Linked DNA regions of Homo sapiens: region 2 is linked to region 1. The links come from fine-mapping of genetic effects on gene expression. A gene starts in region 1. The other region holds a variant in brackets. All regions are shown on one strand. Distances are between the middles of the regions.

Evidence for each region. PIP is the estimated chance that this variant, and not a neighbour inherited with it, causes the effect.
Region 2: its variant is fine-mapped to the expression of NAALADL1 in whole blood (INTERVAL, PIP above 0.99).

The regions. Positions count from the first base shown.
Region 1 is chr11:65,056,797-65,059,695 of GRCh38, forward strand. NAALADL1 (N-acetylated alpha-linked acidic dipeptidase like 1) reads right to left here and starts at 1,757. Exons shown (of 18, transcript NM_005468.3): 1 at 1,541-1,757; 2 at 1,282-1,454; 3 at 1,079-1,200; 4 at 575-697. The coding sequence starts at 1,725.
Region 2 is chr11:65,034,178-65,037,076 of GRCh38, forward strand. It overlaps SNX15 (sorting nexin 15), which reads left to right. Exons shown (of 8, transcript NM_013306.5): 4 at 670-785; 5 at 882-1,029; 6 at 1,343-1,486. ARL2-SNX15 (ARL2-SNX15 readthrough (NMD candidate)) reads left to right here. Exons shown (of 11, transcript NR_037650.2): 7 at 670-785; 8 at 882-1,029; 9 at 1,343-1,486. Among named protein-coding and RNA genes, the nearest start is that of SAC3D1, 5.6 kb to the right of the region's middle. The variant G/A (reference allele first, on the strand shown) is at 1,621.

The DNA of each region.
Region 1 (2,899 bases):
CATCTCTGCCTCCCAGGTTCAAGCAGTTCATCTGCCTGAGCCTCCCCAGTAGCTGGGATTACAGGCATGCACCACCATGTGTGGCTAATTTTGTATTTTGAGTAGAGATGGAGTTTCACCATGTTGGCCAGGCTGGCCTTGATCTCCTGACCTCAGGTGATCTGCCCACTTCGGCCTCCCAAAGTGCTGGGATTATAGGCGTGAGCCACAGCGCCCGGCCCCTAGTCAGAATTTTTGATGGAAAAGAAATGGCAGGGAGAGGGCCAACAGGAGGGACTTAAGTTGAATATTCAAAACTATTTCACAGGAGGACTTAGACTTCTGGAATACCAAACCTGAAAATTGTACTCAACCCCTTTATTTCCTACAGCTCAGAGAGGGTCAGGGAGGCATCCGAGGCCACACAGCCCATTGGTGGGACAACCCGAAAACACCTTGCCTTTCCTGCCCCACCCTGGGGCTTGGTTCCCCACTCAACACTGCCTCTTCTCCTTCCCCTTCCCCTCACTTCCTCCAGTCCACTGCCCAGCCCCTTCCTCACCGAGGCCTCCTGCACTGGGGGACTGCCACTCACCTTGGCCCCACGCCCTACACCCCCATATCGAGTCAGGGCAATGGTGCCTTCAAGTTTGATGCCCTGAGTCTGTAGCTCCTTAAAGTCTTCTTCCGCGCCCCGGTTGGCATAGACGAGGAGGCCCTAGTCCCAAGAGGGGGTGATCCTTAGAGCTGGGCCCAGCGAAGTGTGGGTGGGGAAGGGGGGTGGAAGTTTGCATGGCAGGAGGGAGAATTTAGATTCTGTTCCCCCACCTCACCCAGAGCTTGTAAGCTCCCCAAGAACAGTCACCCCTCATTTCCTCCATGTCTGGGTGCCCTGTAACAGACCTGGCCTTGAGCAGAGCCACTAGTGTTTGTTGAATGACTGATGGAGGAAAGGAGCAGCGATGGAGTGTCCCGGTGAGTAAATTCCGGAGGGCGCGCTGTGCCCCAGTTGAGGCACGTTCCCTGGGTCAGGGTGGGGAGAACCCTGGGTGGAACCAAGGGAGCTGGGCCAGAGCAGTAGGGGGGGTTCTGGGCCCACCTGTGGGGTTCCAGAAGGAGCATAGGCAGCATAGGGTTGTACCACATCTGGCCCCCCTTGCTCCCCGGTCACGTTCTCCTCAGTCCGGTGGCAGGAGTGGATGATGCCCCCAGTGGGGCCCACTGTTGGAGGGGTGGCAGTATCATGGCTGGGCCCAGCAGCTCCCCACCCCCGGGCATTCCCAAGACTGGGCAGGACCTCACCGATGTCCACGACGTTGGGCTGCTCCTGGCTAGGGAAGGACAGCAGCACTTCGTACGTGGAGGCCTCGGCCGAGTCCAGGCCTGACTCTGGGTCCTTCCAGCGCTGCAGCAGCAGCTGCACCAGGTCCTCATCCCGAGGGCTGGAGGCCAGGTGTGGCTCCCTGGAGAGTTCTCTGCAGGGTGGGCAGAGGGAGGGGCAGGGCCAGCATCAGGGAGGGGGCCTCTGGCAAACGGAGGAGCAGATGGCCCCACTTCTCACCTGAGGTTCTCCCGGATCCTGTGGGCATCCAGCTGCCCCATGACGGTCTCCAGGATCTCCAGGTCCAGGTCCTGGGGGGCCAGTGAGTTGGCTTTTTTGGGGATGGCAAAGTGGCCGAGGATGATCCCCAGCCCCAAGAGGGCAGCAGCCCCCAGCCCCAGCCCCAACACCTTCGTCCACTGCATCCTGCGGACTCTTGGCCAGCTGGGGTAGGACTGGTCTATAGGTTATTCCCTATAGAGGGGGTGTTGTGCCTGGTTAAACATTACCCCATGGGTGGCACTGCCCTTTGACCCCCAGCTGGCAGGGAGAGTGAGGGAACATCCCGCAGTGAGAGCCAGGAGCCATCCACATCCACCACATCCTGCACCATTTGCCTGGAATGGCTCTCCAAGGGCAGCAAGGTCACCCAGGGACACTGAAGCCGAGAGGGAAGGGGCTCATCCAGGGTGTCCCAGGAAAACAGAGGCCAAGCCAGGGCTGGAACTCAGAGCTCCTGTGTTCACAGCAGGGCCGTGCCCACTGCCCACCCTCACTGCCTCTGCCTCCCTCCAAGGCAGCCGATCTACAGCATACCCAGCCCTACCTGCCTGAGCAGATTTTGAGTTGAGATCCCCCTTCTTGCTGGACGTAAGCTGTGTGACCTTGGGCAATCCACTCAGCTTCTCTACACCTGTTTTCTTTTTTTTTTTTCTAGACTGTGTCTTCCACTGACACCCAGGCTGGAGTCCAGTGGTGTGATCTCGGCTCACTGCAACCTCCACCTCCCGGGCTCAAGTGATTCTCCTGCATCGGCCTCCCGAGTAGCTGGGATTACGGGTGTGCACCACCATGTCCAGCTAATTTTTGTATTTTTAGTAGAGATGGGGTTTCACCATGTTGGCCAGGCTGGTCTCAAACTCCTGATCTCAGGTGATCACCCGCCTCAGCCTCCCAAAGTGCTGGGATGACAGGAGTGAGCCACCGTGCCGGCTATGGTGTCATTTTCATTAAACAATATGGCATCTGTAGAAATAGCTAGTGCAGTGTCTGACATGTAGTGGGAGCTCATCAATTTTAACTACTCATCCCTCATCTGACTCTGGAAAATGTAAGGCCTAGAGCTAAAGGAAGAAGGAGGACCCAGAAGAACTCTCTGTGTCTATCCTGAAGGGAGCCCAGCGATACGAGGAATGGGAGTCCTGGGAAGGGAGGCTGTCCCAGAGGAGGCAGCAGGGGAAGCCCATGCCTCCCTGGCGAGGTGACTTCCTCTTCTATCCCCTGGCTCTGCCTGGACTCCGTCATCCACCCTCCTATTTATCCATCCACCCATCCCTCCATTCACTTATTCATTCCTTCCTTTATACATGCAAGCACTGT
Region 2 (2,899 bases), 23 kb before region 1:
TGGGAAGCCAAGGCAAGGTAATCACTTGAGCTCAGGAGTTCAAGACCAGCCTGGGCAACATGGTAAAACCCCATCTCTACAAAAAATACAAAAATTAGCCAGGCATGATTGTGTGCACCTATAGTCCCAGCTACTTGGGAGGCTGAGGCGGGAGGGCGGCTTGATCCCAGGAGGCAGAGGTTGCAGTGAGCTGAGATCGTGCCACTGCACACCAGCCTGGGTAACACAGCCAGTCCTTTTCTCAAAAAATAAACGGGGGCTCCTTGCTTTGTGACCTTGGGCAAGTCACTTTCCCTCTCTGAGCCTTACTTTTCTCATTAGATCAAAGCCATCAGAAATGCTTTTGTTTCTTGTTAACTGCCTAGCTCCCCCTGGGTAGGATATGATATTCACAAGGGCAGAGACTGGTTCCTCCCCTGTTCACCTTCTGAGTCTAGCATATAGTAGGTGCTCAGTAAACATCTGGCAAATGAATGAATAGGGAAATTGATCCCTCCTGGAAGCCCCTACCTCACCCCAGGAGGAACCAGGGCAGATTGCTGGGAGAATGGGTAGGAGGGCAGTGAGTTGCTCAGAGCATCTCAGGCAGGACCAGGAAAAGTGGCCTTGGGGCAGAAGCCCCTGTGGGTCACCGCCACTCTCCCCTGTTCCTTGTCCTGGGGGCCGTAGGCCGGTTTGAAGCCTCAGTGATCGAGGAGCGGCGAAAGGGGGCAGAGGACCTGCTTCGCTTCACTGTGCACATACCTGCGCTCAACAACAGCCCCCAGCTCAAGGAGTTCTTCCGGGTATGTGCACCTTCCACCTTCCCAGAACTTGGGCCACTTACCCACCCACCAGATTGCACCCCATGACTCCCCATGTCTGATCTTTCTGTCCTGCAGGGTGGGGAGGTGACCCGACCCTTGGAGGTGTCCAGGGACCTACACATCCTGCCACCCCCTCTGATCCCCACCCCGCCCCCTGATGACCCCCGGCTATCCCAACTGCTCCCTGCAGAAAGGAGGGGCCTCGAGGAATTGGAGGTGCCAGGTACATCGGGGTGGGAGGAGGGAACCAGGGCTGGAGGGTGCAGAGTGGGGAGGGCGGCCACACTCCCTCCTCAGTGATCTTACTGAGAAATGTGTGTGTGTCCCAGGTCTATCACTTAACTGGCTGAGGAACTTTGGGCAGGTCCTTTTCCTTCTCTGTGCTACAGTTTCTTGATCTGTAAAATGAGCACAAACCCTAATAACAGGCTTGTCTATGCCCATGGTTGCTGCAAGGGTTTAAGGAGAGAGTAATTCTATTTTGAAAGCTGAGAAATAAACGCAGGTATTCATGACCCCACTTATCTCTTCCTCAGTGGACCCCCCACCATCCAGCCCTGCCCAGGAGGCCCTGGATCTCCTCTTTAACTGTGAGAGCACCGAGGAGGCATCTGGTTCCCCTGCCCGAGGCCCCCTCACCGAGGCTGAGCTTGCCCTCTTCGACCCCTTCTCCAAGGAAGGTAATGAGCTGGGACAGCCGGGAAGGAGCCAGGGCAGGACGTCCTTGGGACAGGGAGGAGGGCAGAGCCCCACTAGCCTGCTCAGTGCCTGCGCAGATCAGGGAGAGACGTCTCCTCAGCAGTGCTGCCCTGTG[G/A]GCCAATAGCAGCTTCAATGAGAATTAGAAGCCCTGTGCCAGGGCACGTGGTGTGGTGTGCTGGATGCACCTGTGCAACAAATAGCCACGAGGAAGGAAAGGAGGCACTTCCCATGTTGGGGCCATCTCACTGAGAAGGCTTTGGAAAGAGCCGGGTCACACTGCTCTGGGACATTTTAGTTCCTTCCCTGCAAGCTCTTGGTGGGATTTCCTGACTGGCCAGGGTCTGGCTGCAGATCCTGAAGGCAAGAGGCCTGCTGGTCAATGGGAGTGAGTTCTCAGCTCAAAGGGCAGCTGCAAAGGGAAATCCCTCTGGGGGCCTGGAGCCACTGGCATTTGGGGATGCTGGAGGTAGAAGGGCCCCCCCAATGGAGGTCAGGGTCCTGGGCACCTTCTTGCTGTGAGATCCTGGGACTCGACAGTCCCAAGCTCTGAGACACTGGAGTTTTTCATTCTAAAATTTGCCAACGCCTGGCACATTGGCTCACACCTGTAATCTCGACACTTTGGGAGGCTGAGGCAGGAAGATTGCTTGAGCCCAGGAATTCAAGACCAGCCTGGGCAATATAGCAAGAGTCCATGTCTGTTATTCTTTTTCTTTTTTTGAGACAGAGTCTCACTTTGTCGCCCAGTCTGGAGTACAGTGGCGCAATCTCTGCTCACTGCAACCTCCCAGGTCCAAGCGATTCTCCTGCCTCAGCCTCCTGAGTAGCTGCGACTACAGGCGCGCACCACGGTGCCTGCTAATTTTGTATTTTTAGTCGAGATGGGATTTTTCCATGTTGGTCAGGCTGGTCTCAAACTCCCGACCTCAGGTGGTGCGCCCGCCTCAGCCTCTGAAAGTGCTGGGATTACGGATGTGAGCCACCGCGCTTGGCCCGTTTTTTTTTTTGAGATCGAGTCTTGCTCTGGATTGCCGAGGCTGGAGTGCAGTGGCGCGATCTCAGCTCACTCCCACCTCCGCCTCCCGGATTCAAGCGATTCTCCTGCCTCAGCCTCCTGAGTGGCTGGGACTACAGGCGCGCGCCACCACGCCTGGCTAATTTTTGTATTTTGAGTAGAGACAGGGTCGCACCATTTTGGTCAGGCTGGTCTCAAACTCCTGACACTCAAGTGATCCACCTGCCTCCGCCTCCCAGAGTGCTGAGATTACGGGCGTGAGCCAAAATGCCCTGCCTCTTTCACTTTTCTTGTTCTGCCTCCTCCCGTTCCTGCTCCTGCCTCTCCAGGGTTGGGGAGTGGGAAGAAGGAATGGGAGGGAAAGGCAATGTTGGTGTCA